3 linked regions of the Homo sapiens genome follow. The protein of the gene in region 3 interacts with the protein of the main gene of each other region in a pairwise test. Each region holds a gene or a part of one and is shown on either strand. Other genes may lie near its edges.

Region 1 (3,647 bases), on a different chromosome or scaffold from region 3:
CTGGAAAGTGAGTGAAAGAAACAGGCTTGCTTAAAAGAGGAAGCGGGAACAGCCAAAGCGAGGCTGGAACGATGTTTAGCTCGGTGCTAATGGGCAAGAGTGACTTACACGGCAGGAAACAGCCAGTTGAGCGCAGAGGGTGCTGGGAGATGGACACCCTGCTGCCTCACTGCGTGCGCACACCTGTCGGGATGGGAGACGGGCGCCCTGCTGCCTCACTGCGCGCACACCTATCGGGAAGCCCCAGACGGCTATCCCACTGCTTGTCACCCGCCAGAGAAACCCAAGACAAAGGCACCAAGAGCCACACACACACAGACGTTCACAGCACCAGATGAAAATCAGGAAGCACCCACTTGTCCTGAAGTGGGTCCCTGGCAGCTTGAACATCCCCACACCCCAGGCCATCTGCTGAAAAGCCTGAGGCAAAGGCCTAGCTGGCTACTCTGCCCCATGGCCTGTCCCTCCTCTACCACTGCCTGACCCTCATCACTGGGGTAAGTCTTGAAACCACAGACTCCACTTCATTCTTTAGAAAAATGGTTTTAACTGTTCTAGGTCCTTTGCCTTTGCATGTAGCTTGTGTAGTATAAAAAACTGAGATTTTGTTAGGACTGTGTGAAATCTACAGATTCACTCAAGGGGAATGATTTAGCAACATTTGTAGGAAGCCAGCTCTGAACTGTCAGAGTGGGCACGCCTGGGCAGCACCAGGGGCAGAACAGCCACGGAACCCAGTGCACGGAGGGGACGCAGCTAATGCACAGGCAGGAAAAGGGGTCAGAAATCCCGAAGTCAGGAAGGAAGCTGTCGTCAGCAGCATCAGATACCAGAGGCTAAGAAACTGAGGACTGAGAACAGCCCCTCGGCAAGTGGCAATTCGGAGGGGTTCCCTGGAGACCCTGAAGGAGAGCAGAGGGCAGGGCTGCAGAGAGCAAAAGGCATCCCCCAGTGAGGGGGAGGTCCGCGGGGACGGGAGCAGCAGTGCCATAGAGGGAAATGGGAGGGGCAGTAGGAACACACATTCTCTCTCTGAAGGGAGGCTTTCCTGAGACCCAGGACCAGCACAGAGCCACACACGGTTGTGGGGAACAACGGAAGCGATGGGAGGGGACCAAGATAAAAGCACAAGTGACAGGGTTGGGGCTGGCAACGGCCGCACCACACCCAGGGGCTGCCCCCTCTTCTCCCAACTGTGTCCAGCCCTGTTGGGGGAGCAGCTCATCTCCACCAGCAACTGACCTAGCTGGTGAAGTTGAGGGAGACTGGGTGTGGATACAGAATTAATATTCACTATTTATTTTTAAAAAACTAAAACCACAAAACAAACAAAAAAAATGTAAAGCTGGCATAATTTTGCTTGTCAAAGACCACCACCCATTTTGGTTTTTTTTTTTTTTTTTGAGATGGAGTTTTGATCTTGTCACCCAGGGTGGAGTGCAGCGATCTCGGCTCACTGCAAGCTCCGCCTCCTGGGTTCAAGCGATTCTCCTGCCTCAGCCTCCTGAGTAGCTGGGACTACAGGGCCCCACCACCACGCCCAGCTAATTTTTTGTATTTTTTTAGTAGAGACAAGGTTTCACCGTATTAGCAAGGATGGTCTGGATCTCCTGACGAGTTTCACTCTTGTCACCCAGGCTGGAATACAACGGCACGACCTCGGCTCACTGCAACCTCCGCCTCCCGGGTTCAAGTGATTCTCCTGCCTCAGCCTCCCGAGTAGCTGGGATTATAGGCATGCACTACCACACCCGGCTAATTTTGTATTTTTAGTAGAGATGGGGTTTCTCCGTGTTGGTCAGGCTGGTCTCGAACTCCTGACCTCAGATGATCCGCCCACCTCAGCCTCCCAAAGTGCTGGAATTACAGGCGTGAGCCACCGCGCCCGGCCGACCACTACTCACTCGGTGGTATATATTCTTCAGATCAGCTGAAGGCACACACACGCATCGTAACAAGTACTTTAACACGCCCTGGACACCTGCTCCCGGGCCTTATCTCACCACGGCCTGCTGGCATCCCCAACGCTGGTCATGGGCAATGACACGATGATGGAGGGCCCACCCTACAGATGTACTCCCGCACTCTGGCTGCCCTAGTTGCAGATGATCCAGAACTGGGATTCCTGGGCCAAAGGAGAGTCCACAGGTGTGGCTGTGTTAACTCGGCCAAAATGCCTTCAGGAGAGCCTTTTTCATTCTTACCCACCCACAACCCTCCCGACAGTCCAAAGCAGGGGTTGCAAACCTTCTTCTAGCAGCAGCACTCTCTTCTAGTGAAATCTCATCCAAAGCCTCCACACACAGGCAAACAGAGCCTGCTGCTCCAGCCACCTGAAGCCGGGGCCCTGTGGCTGGACAGCAACTGCTGACCTGGCCCTGCTCTGCCTTGTGCTTGCCGGCGGGACAGTATTCACGGGCACACTGACTACTGACCTGGTCCAGATCGAGGCTGGCGCCAGCCTCCGCCAAAGGCCCCAGAAACTTACTGACAGCTCCAGCATCTTCTCTATAAATGACACTAGGTCTCTAGGTGGTGTCTGCTGACCTGGAGGGGTCAGGCTGCTGGATCAGCCTTGGTAGTCGATGAAGGGCTGAGGTGCTGGACAGGTCCTGCAGCCTACCGAAGCCCCAGGTGCCACCACACAGGGGTACTTCCACTTAGCTCAGAGACCGTCCTGGGGATTGCGAAACCCTGGGGGCGCCCAGCACAGAAGGCACACTGAATAACTGAATATATGTGCCTTTCCTTTGATGATATGCACTGGGTCTTAAGAAATAGTAGAACAGGCCAGCTTCAGTGTTTACCCCGGTCTGGTTTTCTCAGCTATGGCCCTATGGTGTCAGAGGCTGGTGAACACAGACGCTACAGGCGGCCCTGCAGGCTGAGACACATCAGCAGAGCAAACACTTCCAGCGTGTGGAGAAGCAGACGAGGAGGAGTTCCAACTAAGCCAATTTAACTAGCACACATCCAAAGTAGAAAGGCTGCTGTTTGCAAATAAAAGATGTTGAACAGGCAAGGCTGACTGAGAATATAAAAACCGCCTGGTGTTCTTCTCCTAAGCACAGAATCCTTACCTTCATAAGGGGTCATCTCTGGGCCTCGGACGACATAGTGCCTAAGGGAGAGAAGAAAATTACTTGGGATTTGAGGACAGCAAATTCTCCAAAATCTGAATCATTCCAAGCCTGGGGTTTATAGAACCCAGCCAAAATTACATTCACATTCAGGCAGTGAACAAATGAAGGTGAAATGTCACACAGCCACACGGCTTCAAAACCCCCGTCTCTTCTACCGTGGGTGCTTTTAGTCTCTTGTAACAGGATCTTAGAGACTATACTTTATAAGTTTACCATAAAGTACCTTTGTTTCGACAATATAACATGCACGAAGCTCATCTTAATAATAACTGAAATCTTAAATAAATTTTAATTTCACAGTACATTACTAAGATGTACTTGAAGACTGTAATCCCAGCACTTTGGGAGGGCACGGTGGAAGATCGCTTGAGCCCAGGAGCTTGACACCAGCCTAGGCAACATAGCAAGACCCCACCTTTATTTAAAAAAAAAAAGTTAGCCGGGTGTGGTAGTGCATGCCTGCAGCCCGCCTACTCAGGAGGCTGAGGCGGGAGGATCACTTGA
Region 2 (3,647 bases), on a different chromosome or scaffold from region 3:
CCCACTGCAACCTCCGCCTCCCAGGTTCAAGCAATTCTGCTGCCACCGCCTCCCGAGTAGCTGGGATTACAGGTTTCCGCCGCCACACCCGGCTAATTTTTGTGTTTTTAGTAGAGACGGGGTTTCACCATGTTGGCCAGGCTGGTCTTGAACTCCACCTCAAGCTCCCAAAGTGCTGGGATTACAGGAGTGAGCCACCGTTCCTGGCCGTAAAGACTCTTTTAAACATGGATGACTGTTTTGATAAAATGACATGGCTTGTTCATGTCGATACCATTTGCTTAGAAGGGAAAGATCAAGGGAAAAATGGGGTTGGATTTCAAATGATTTGGTTTGATCGATGATTTGTTATTCTCTAAAGTTGTAACTCTGGAAAAGGTAATGAGTTTGACTTATTCTTTAACTTTTCCTCTTTAGACAGTTCAAATATTTGAATTCTACATGCTAGGACTTGTTTTCTTTATACTTACCAAGAAACATCCTTATGCAGTTTCTCTAATGTTTGAGAAACTAAGTTGTTTTTTACACACGTGCATGCTAGTTCCTGAAGAGTCCTGTACAGGTGCTCTGCTGGCTTTTCCTTTCAGGTTTCTGTATCAGCTGTATTTCTCCCTGTAGAATGTGCCCCTGACCTCCACCCCTTAACCTTACCCCATTTGTCTTTATATGCCTGACCATCCGTCAAGGCTCTTCTGGGTCATATTTAGTTCATGCTGTTATTTCCCCTTCCTCCCTTCTTTAGTCCTTACTATTTTTGCTTTGGTCATGTTTTCTTATGCTGTATTCTGTAAGCCTTTAAATTTTTCTTTTTATGGTGGCAGGGGAGAATATTTTATAATTATGCTTTGTGCTTTTTATCTTCCACTCAATAAATGCTTCATAAATATTTGAGTATATAGCGCTATTCTAGCTGTATTGTATTTGAACAAAAATCTTAACTGCCTTGTAAGTTAACTGCTAAGAATTTGTCAAAAGTGCAGAGATAACATCAATAACTTGTCATGGATAGTACAAAAAGGTCTCTAAGGGCTTGATGGAAGTCTGTAAATTGACTTCATATGAGAGTGTAAGAAGTGAAAAAGACCAAAACAGAGTAGATGTTTTACTCTGTAGGCCAAGGGAATTGAGCTAATTCTTTTCCTGTTTTATAAATTTGTCCTGATCTTAAATAATGAAGGGAAAAGAGTGCTCTTTTTCAACCTCGAGTCCTTTTTATTCTTTTCTGTGAAGCCATGATATGAAAGATTGCCTGTTATACAAACTTAAGTATAGTTTTTCCATCTTCAGTAAACTAACCTGATTGCCGTCTAATTAGTTGTTACAATCACACCGAAATGCAAAGCAGCTTGTTTTAAGCAGCCTTATTGGGAGCTAGTATATGGCTTTAGTCGTTTTGAAGTATTTAACATAACTTGGCAACTCCATTACTCCTTTTATGGACTTTTTGGCATCTGGGCATTCTTGGTAGGAAATCACTGTTTTAGAATGAAAAATCTCCCCCAGGAAGTAAATTAGCTAGTAAACAAATGAAACTTCATTTTTTATATTACTTGTAGAGCATAAATGATTACCCTTTCTGCGTATAAGTGGCTGTTTGCTAGGCTGCTTTTAGTGGGACTTTGTTTTTGATTGGTTAATTAAATTTCTATTCATTATTGCCAAAAAGTGCCTACCCCCAACAGCAAGATACTAAATTTTAAAAATGTTGGAGCTGTGAATCTAGGAGGAAGTGAGAAGTTTAGCTTTTATTTAGTAGTTAGGAGCTTAAGTAAGTCACTTCTTTTACTGTGTTTCTGTGTACTATAGATAATATTTTTTTGCACTGCAAGAGAGCATATAGAGGAAAGCTCTTTGGCAATGATATTATGTTCTACAAATATAAAAGCGATGGTGTCATTTGTGGCTGAATAACACTTTATTTTGAAAATGCTTTATAACAGGTTTTTGTGGGAAATAAAGCAATGCTGTTAACTTCATCTTGCATTTTTCTAGTCTTTACTATGATTAAAAAGTAGTCCAGTCAAAGTTGTACAAAGGAAATAAACCTGGACTAAGGAGCCTAAGACTTTTCTCTTTGGTTTGCCCTCCTGGGACAGATTACCTTTCCAAATTGAATTCATGGAAGAGCATTTGGAAATATCAGAACTGTCATGTTAAGCACCTAAGTGGTACTTTCATTCCAGAAGAATCATTGTTTTCGTTTATCTGACCAATTTATAATATAGGGTCAAATTCCTGGTGGTTATTTATGCTCCCTCATCCCCATTTTTATACCTGTCCTTGAAAGGAACAGATATATGAAGAGAAGACTTAGGTTTCCCTTTTGTGAATAGTATATCCCTTAGTATCTTGATTTTTTTTTTTTAATTTGGTTAAACATATTTAGACCTGGAAAAGGGTAGTATTTGATAAATGTCAGCTAGTTGAGGGGTGGGGAATTGAGTTGAATGGAGATAGTCACTGCCAAATGTCAAGCATGACTGGAGAGCCAGAGTGATAAAGCAGGGGTCCCTTTTTCCAGATCCTTTGTAACAGTGTTATGTGATCTCTTCTAGAAGATTCTGAAAGATAATCCCAACTTGGAACCTAGGAAACCACCCAGTGGGTTTCTGCAGCTTAGGTGGTTCAGATCCTCATCAGCACCTTTTTCTGTGCCTCAGTTTGCTTACAATGATGTTCTCAGTAGCTGTAATTTGCTGCTTGTGTTTGAATACTTAAGCATTTTCTTTTTATCATGGGTATATGAACATTTTTATTTCAACAAGTGTTAGAATTTTTACTCTGCTTTTGTGGGCTCTAGGTTAGCTACTTGGTTGTTTATTTGTAAAATGATTAGCAGGGAACCATGTGTATGCATTTTAAGTATCTTTTGTTGTCAGAGCAGTTAGAATTTTATTAAGGTACTATATGCTAATTCTGTCAATTTACTTCGTTCTCCACCCCACATTTATTGAACAGCAAACTATGAAAGTAATGTGTCCCATAACTGGCCTTCAGAAGAATTACAACTGCTGTTATCTCTGAACCTTCCAGAAGTTTGTGCATCAGTTTTAAAAAAATGATGAAATCCCTGAAGATAGCTGTGTCCTACATTTGGAAAGATACAAAAACTGACCATTCTGGTCAACCAGTTTTGGTTGCTGGTGCTTGAGATAGAGCCACACAATGGTCTCAGTGGATTTATGGAGAAAAATAGATACAGAAAGTTACTTCTAAATAAGACAAAAAAATCTTTTTCTTGAGCAGTGACAGGTAAAGAGGTTGGTTTGGTTAATCTTGAGTTGTGTTTCCCTCCATTAAGACAGTTTTATGGTGGGGATGGTAGTGGTGATGAACTTGTTTGAAATTTGTCCACTTACAGTAATGTTTATGGTAGCTTCACAGACAACTTCATTCTCACAGGCCTTAGAATTACTATAAAACTAATAGAATGGATGAGGAACAAAGGACCTGAGTAATTAGATGCTTAGATAATTGTTCTGTGTTTTCATAACTGTGGTGAAAAAGAGTGGTGCTAGAAGCACTTAAACATTCTATGTACGGGAAAACTGCCTGAATTTGTATTGGGATTTTTGAGCACCATTCACTGTTTAAAAACTGATATACCATAGGTCATATTTATTTTAAAGAGAAATAGTAGGCAAACT
Region 3 (4,194 bases):
GCCCGGCTAAATTTTTTTGTATTTTTAGTAGAGACGGGGTTTCCCCGTGTTAGCCAGGATGGTCTCCATCTCCTGACCTTGTGATCCGCCCGCCTTGGCCTCCCAAAGTGATGGGATTATAGGCGTGAGCCACCGCGCCTGGCCAGACGACTGCACAATTCTATAATTTAACTAAAAATCATCAAATCATGTTTACAATGGATGAGTTGTGTGGTACATGAACTACATCTCAATAAAGCTATGAAGAGTAAAACAGATATAGTGAAAACAAAGCAAATATTAAATTCAAGCTGAGCGCTGCTGCAGAACATGCTGAAAGTTCCCTTAAGAAAAATGGACAGTGTTAGGTGTTAAAAATGCATATATTACCACCCAGTGACTCTTTCTCCTTGACATAATCAACAAAATTGACAGAGATGTGAAAAGAAAGCTTTCTCATCGGGTGATTGAATGGTCCATGGGGGCAACCCCTAAAATCATCTCAAATGTCTCCACGGTCCCCGGTCTGCCCTTGGGGAAACACACCAAAATGCTGCTGAGGCCCGGCCTGCCTCCCACCCTTGACCTGACGGAGTTCTCATTAAGGAGACAGGAGAGGCGGGGAGTCTAGGAAACCAGTGCGGCACAAAGGCAAGGACCAGAAGAGATGAACAAAGAGAAGAACAAGTATCTGCAAGGCCCCAGGGAAGGATGGAGAAGAGAAAGGGAAAAAGCACAGCTGGAGAGGACCTGTGGACTGGATGGGCGCAGAACACTGCTGGCACTGGCAACATGACCCAGGCAGCTAGCTGATGGGTTGCACCTGGGTGCCAGTGCCAACCAATAGTGGCTGACGCGAGTGTTCTGCGATGGATGCTCAGTGGGAGGGAGGGCCACGAGTGATTAGCAATGACATTTCAGCCACAGTGGGATCCCGAAGCGGGCTGTAAATGACATGTATGTTATTCTGTTCAGCCCAAGTGAAGAACGGACATCAAGTGAGCTCAGGTCCCAGGTGACAGGAAGTGCCACTCAACTTTTTGATATCTGTGTCATGCCACTGCTTACTATGATTATGGTCATTAGCTAGTCACTTATCTTCCTTTATGAGCAATTGTAGCAGCTACCATTTGGGGACTTCTGAGCCAGGTGTGGTTCTGAGGGCTGTATAAGCATCAGCCCGTTTTACAGATGAGGAAACTGGGACCCAGGGGGTTAAGCAACCTCGACCAAGGTCACTCAGCCAGAGGCAGGCTGGAAGAATATCAGAGATGAAAGAGGACAACAGCAAACTGCTCCATCTGATGTAGGGCCATCAGCCCTCGGAACCTCTAGGGAAACCCCAGGGTGGAACCACCCAAAGGCCAGGCTGACCCGCTGCTGGGCCTGGGATACAGCTGTGCTCTCCCCAGCAGGCAGGCAACAGTGCGTTCTGCCTAGCTCTGAGTCCATCCCCTTCAGAGTGCCCCCAAACTGTGCTGGTTCCCCTCACTTCATCCCAGTGGCCCCAGGCCCTCACCTAGTCACACCTTACAAAACCTGGGCAGAGCAGTTTTTCAAACCTGAGTGGACGTAAAACTCACATGGGGAATGGGTTGAAAATGCAGGTTCCCAGGCCCCAAGGGGTCCCAGGCAGGCCCTGGCATGTCTAGCAGTCCTCCCCCACTTGTGGACCTGGCCCACACTCAGAGAAATCTGGCCTGTGGGTGTCCGGAGACACCCAGGAGACTGAGACATCAGATCAGATGAGACGCCAGGATCTGAGGACCCAATCTAGATGTCCCCATGATGCCCAAGTTCTCTCTCCTCTTCCTTCTCTCCTTTCCACCACAAAGAACCCCACGAGGAGATGGAGGGTGAGACTTGGAGCTAGATGCTCCCAGTCAACACATAACTCATCAATAGAGGCAGAAAGAGAGCTGGGAACAAAGCTACGTGGGAGCCCCACAGCTGGTCCCGGTCCCAACTATGCTTCCATCCAGCTGAGATCTTGGCAGTCACTTCCTCCTTGGTGTCTTACGTCCCTCAGCCATAACACAGAGGCCCGAGTATCGGCTGGGTCCTCTCAGCAAGGACCCTGGCCCCTCCCGATCAACTATAATCGTCTCCTTGGGCCCAGCCCCACTCCTCCAACCCACACACCAAGAGCCTCCGTCCTGATGGGAGGGAAATTGCCCAAACCACTGGCTCGGCCTTCACACCAAGCCACTAAAGAAAGCGAAAGCCGGCCCCCGCGGTGAGGTCAATCTGATGACAATGAGAGTTTTCTAGGCAGAAGCGATGCGCCGGGACCCGCGCTCAGCACCCCGCCCCGCCCTCGGGGTTTCCCCCAGGAGCTCCCCCCTGTTGCAAGGACGGAGCTGAGGTGCCCGGGGCGAAGGGACTGCCCCAAGGTCACCCAAGCCGGGCAGTAGCAGCGCCAGGTACGGCTCGGGCAGGTTCCTCCGGGGCCCCCAGCCACGCCTAGGGATCGGGGCCGTGGGGCCGCGCGAAGGCTCGGGGTAGCAACGAGGCCCGGAGGGGGCCGAGCAGGGCGCCCCGCCCCGAGTCCCCGCCCCCGCGCCCGCCGGGTCCGCGTTCCAGCGCGTGCCTAGCAGTCCGCGCCTGGGGCCGGGCGCTCACCGGACTTCGGAGGGTAGCGATAGGCCGAGTTCGCCTGGATGTCGATGTCCTCCACCCCCGCGATGCGGCGGCTGAGAATGGAGCCCATGGTGCGCGGCGCTGCCGGGCAGAGGGGCCAGGGCCGGAACGGGAGCGGCGACAGCGGCGGGGTCCTCACGCGGACATGGCCCGGACCAGGCCGCACGGACGCTCGTCCACGGCCGCGGAGGCGCCTCGAGCCCCCACCCCCGGCTCGGCCCGGGGACCGACGCCACGGCGGCCCTCCGCCTCCCGGTCCCGGGGCACGTCGGGAAATGGAGTCCTCTCGCCGCCGAAGGCGCCGGGAAGCAGCGCGGGAAGCCCGTCTGGGAACTATCTTTCCCAGGATGCTCCGTTCCCAGGCCCTCTGACGGGTTGACAAGCACTCCGGGACAAACCAAATGGACCTAAATTCAGAGGGAAGGAACCAACCAACCACAGGGCAAATGGTCCTTCCCTCTGCGTTCCAAGCGCTGCACTAACATATTAACTCTTTGGTCATTTCCTCATCTGTTCGCTTACAGACTCTCCTGGAGCCCCAGCGCCTTCCACTTGCCCCCTCTGAAATAGCTCCCTGAGTCGCTGTGGTTCTCCCCACTCCCCTGAGTTTGTCTCCCGCCCCGACCGGCAGAGGGCGTAGCTGCACCTGCCACCCGGAGCCCACTTGCAGGGTGTGCACGGAAGAAGTGAAGCACCTGCTTTGGCCTTGGCCAGAATTTGAGGACTACCATTTGGGGACTTCTGAACCAGGTGTGGTTCTGAGAGCTGTATAGGCATCAGCCCGTTTTACAGATGAGGAAGCTGGGATCCAGGGGGTTAAGCAACCTCCGGCCCCCTGACAAGGCTGAGGCCCGGTGCAGTGGCTCACCTGTAATCCCGATACTTTGGCCCCACGTCTGGACCAATTAGTTTAAAGACATAATTTCACAGCCTCCACGGAAGGCAGTAGACTCTCCCACATTTTACACACAGGGAAACTGAGGCACAGAGGAGAGAGAGCCGCATGAAATGGCGCTGCGGGCAAGATTGCAAGAATCGCTTTCAGAATGAAAACCTCGCAGTGTGCAAGGTGTTCCCTGGCTTTTGAGTCACACACAGCTCTGCAAATAGATCGCTTTTTACCTACTTTTCAGTTGAGGAACTTGGATTCTGAGCAGAGTGATTTCCCAAGTCAAGCCTGCTGTACCAAGAAAGCAGCTAGGGAGGGCAAGGCAGACTGAGTCTCCAATGGTCAATTCACCACAGTCCATGTGGAAATGCTTCTTATACCCTTCCAGAGACCACAGTCCAGGATCCAGTCTTCCTCTTTTTTTTTAAATTGTTCTGTCGCGCAGTCTGGAGAGAAGTGGCACAATCTCAGCTCACTACAGCCTTTGCCTCCCGTGTTCAAGCGATTCTCGTGCCTCAGCCTCCCCAGTAGCTGGGATTACAGGCATGCACCATCACACCCAGCCAATTTTTGCATTTTTAGTAGAGACAGGGTTTCACCATGTTAGCCAGGCTGGTCTTGAACTCCCGTCCTCAAGTGATCCGCCTGCCTTGGCCTCCCAAAGTGTTGGGATTAGAGATGAGCCA

What was found.
Region 1: the proteins of MGRN1 (region 3) and UBE2J2 interact in a two-hybrid assay, tested with the Homo sapiens proteins (one large-scale study listed by BioGRID).
Region 2: the proteins of MGRN1 (region 3) and UBE2Q2 interact in a two-hybrid assay, tested with the Homo sapiens proteins (one large-scale study listed by IntAct).

The regions. Positions count from the first base shown.
Region 1 is NC_000001.11:1,260,266-1,263,912, forward strand, and holds part of UBE2J2 (ubiquitin-conjugating enzyme E2 J2), read right to left. Parts: intron 3,122-3,647; coding exon 3,081-3,121; intron 2,126-3,080; exon of another isoform or gene 2,020-2,125; coding exon of another isoform or gene 2,004-2,019; intron 1-2,003. UniProt on the Homo sapiens protein: Catalyzes the covalent attachment of ubiquitin to other proteins. Seems to function in the selective degradation of misfolded membrane proteins from the endoplasmic reticulum (ERAD).
Region 2 is NC_000015.10:75,846,309-75,849,955, forward strand, and holds part of UBE2Q2 (ubiquitin-conjugating enzyme E2 Q2), read left to right. Parts: intron 1-3,647.
Region 3 is NC_000016.10:4,623,456-4,627,649, reverse strand, and holds the start of MGRN1 (E3 ubiquitin-protein ligase MGRN1), read right to left. Parts: upstream 2,825-4,194; 5' UTR 2,690-2,824; coding exon 2,602-2,689; intron 1-2,601. UniProt on the Homo sapiens protein: E3 ubiquitin-protein ligase. Mediates monoubiquitination at multiple sites of TSG101 in the presence of UBE2D1, but not of UBE2G1, nor UBE2H. Plays a role in the regulation of endosome-to-lysosome trafficking.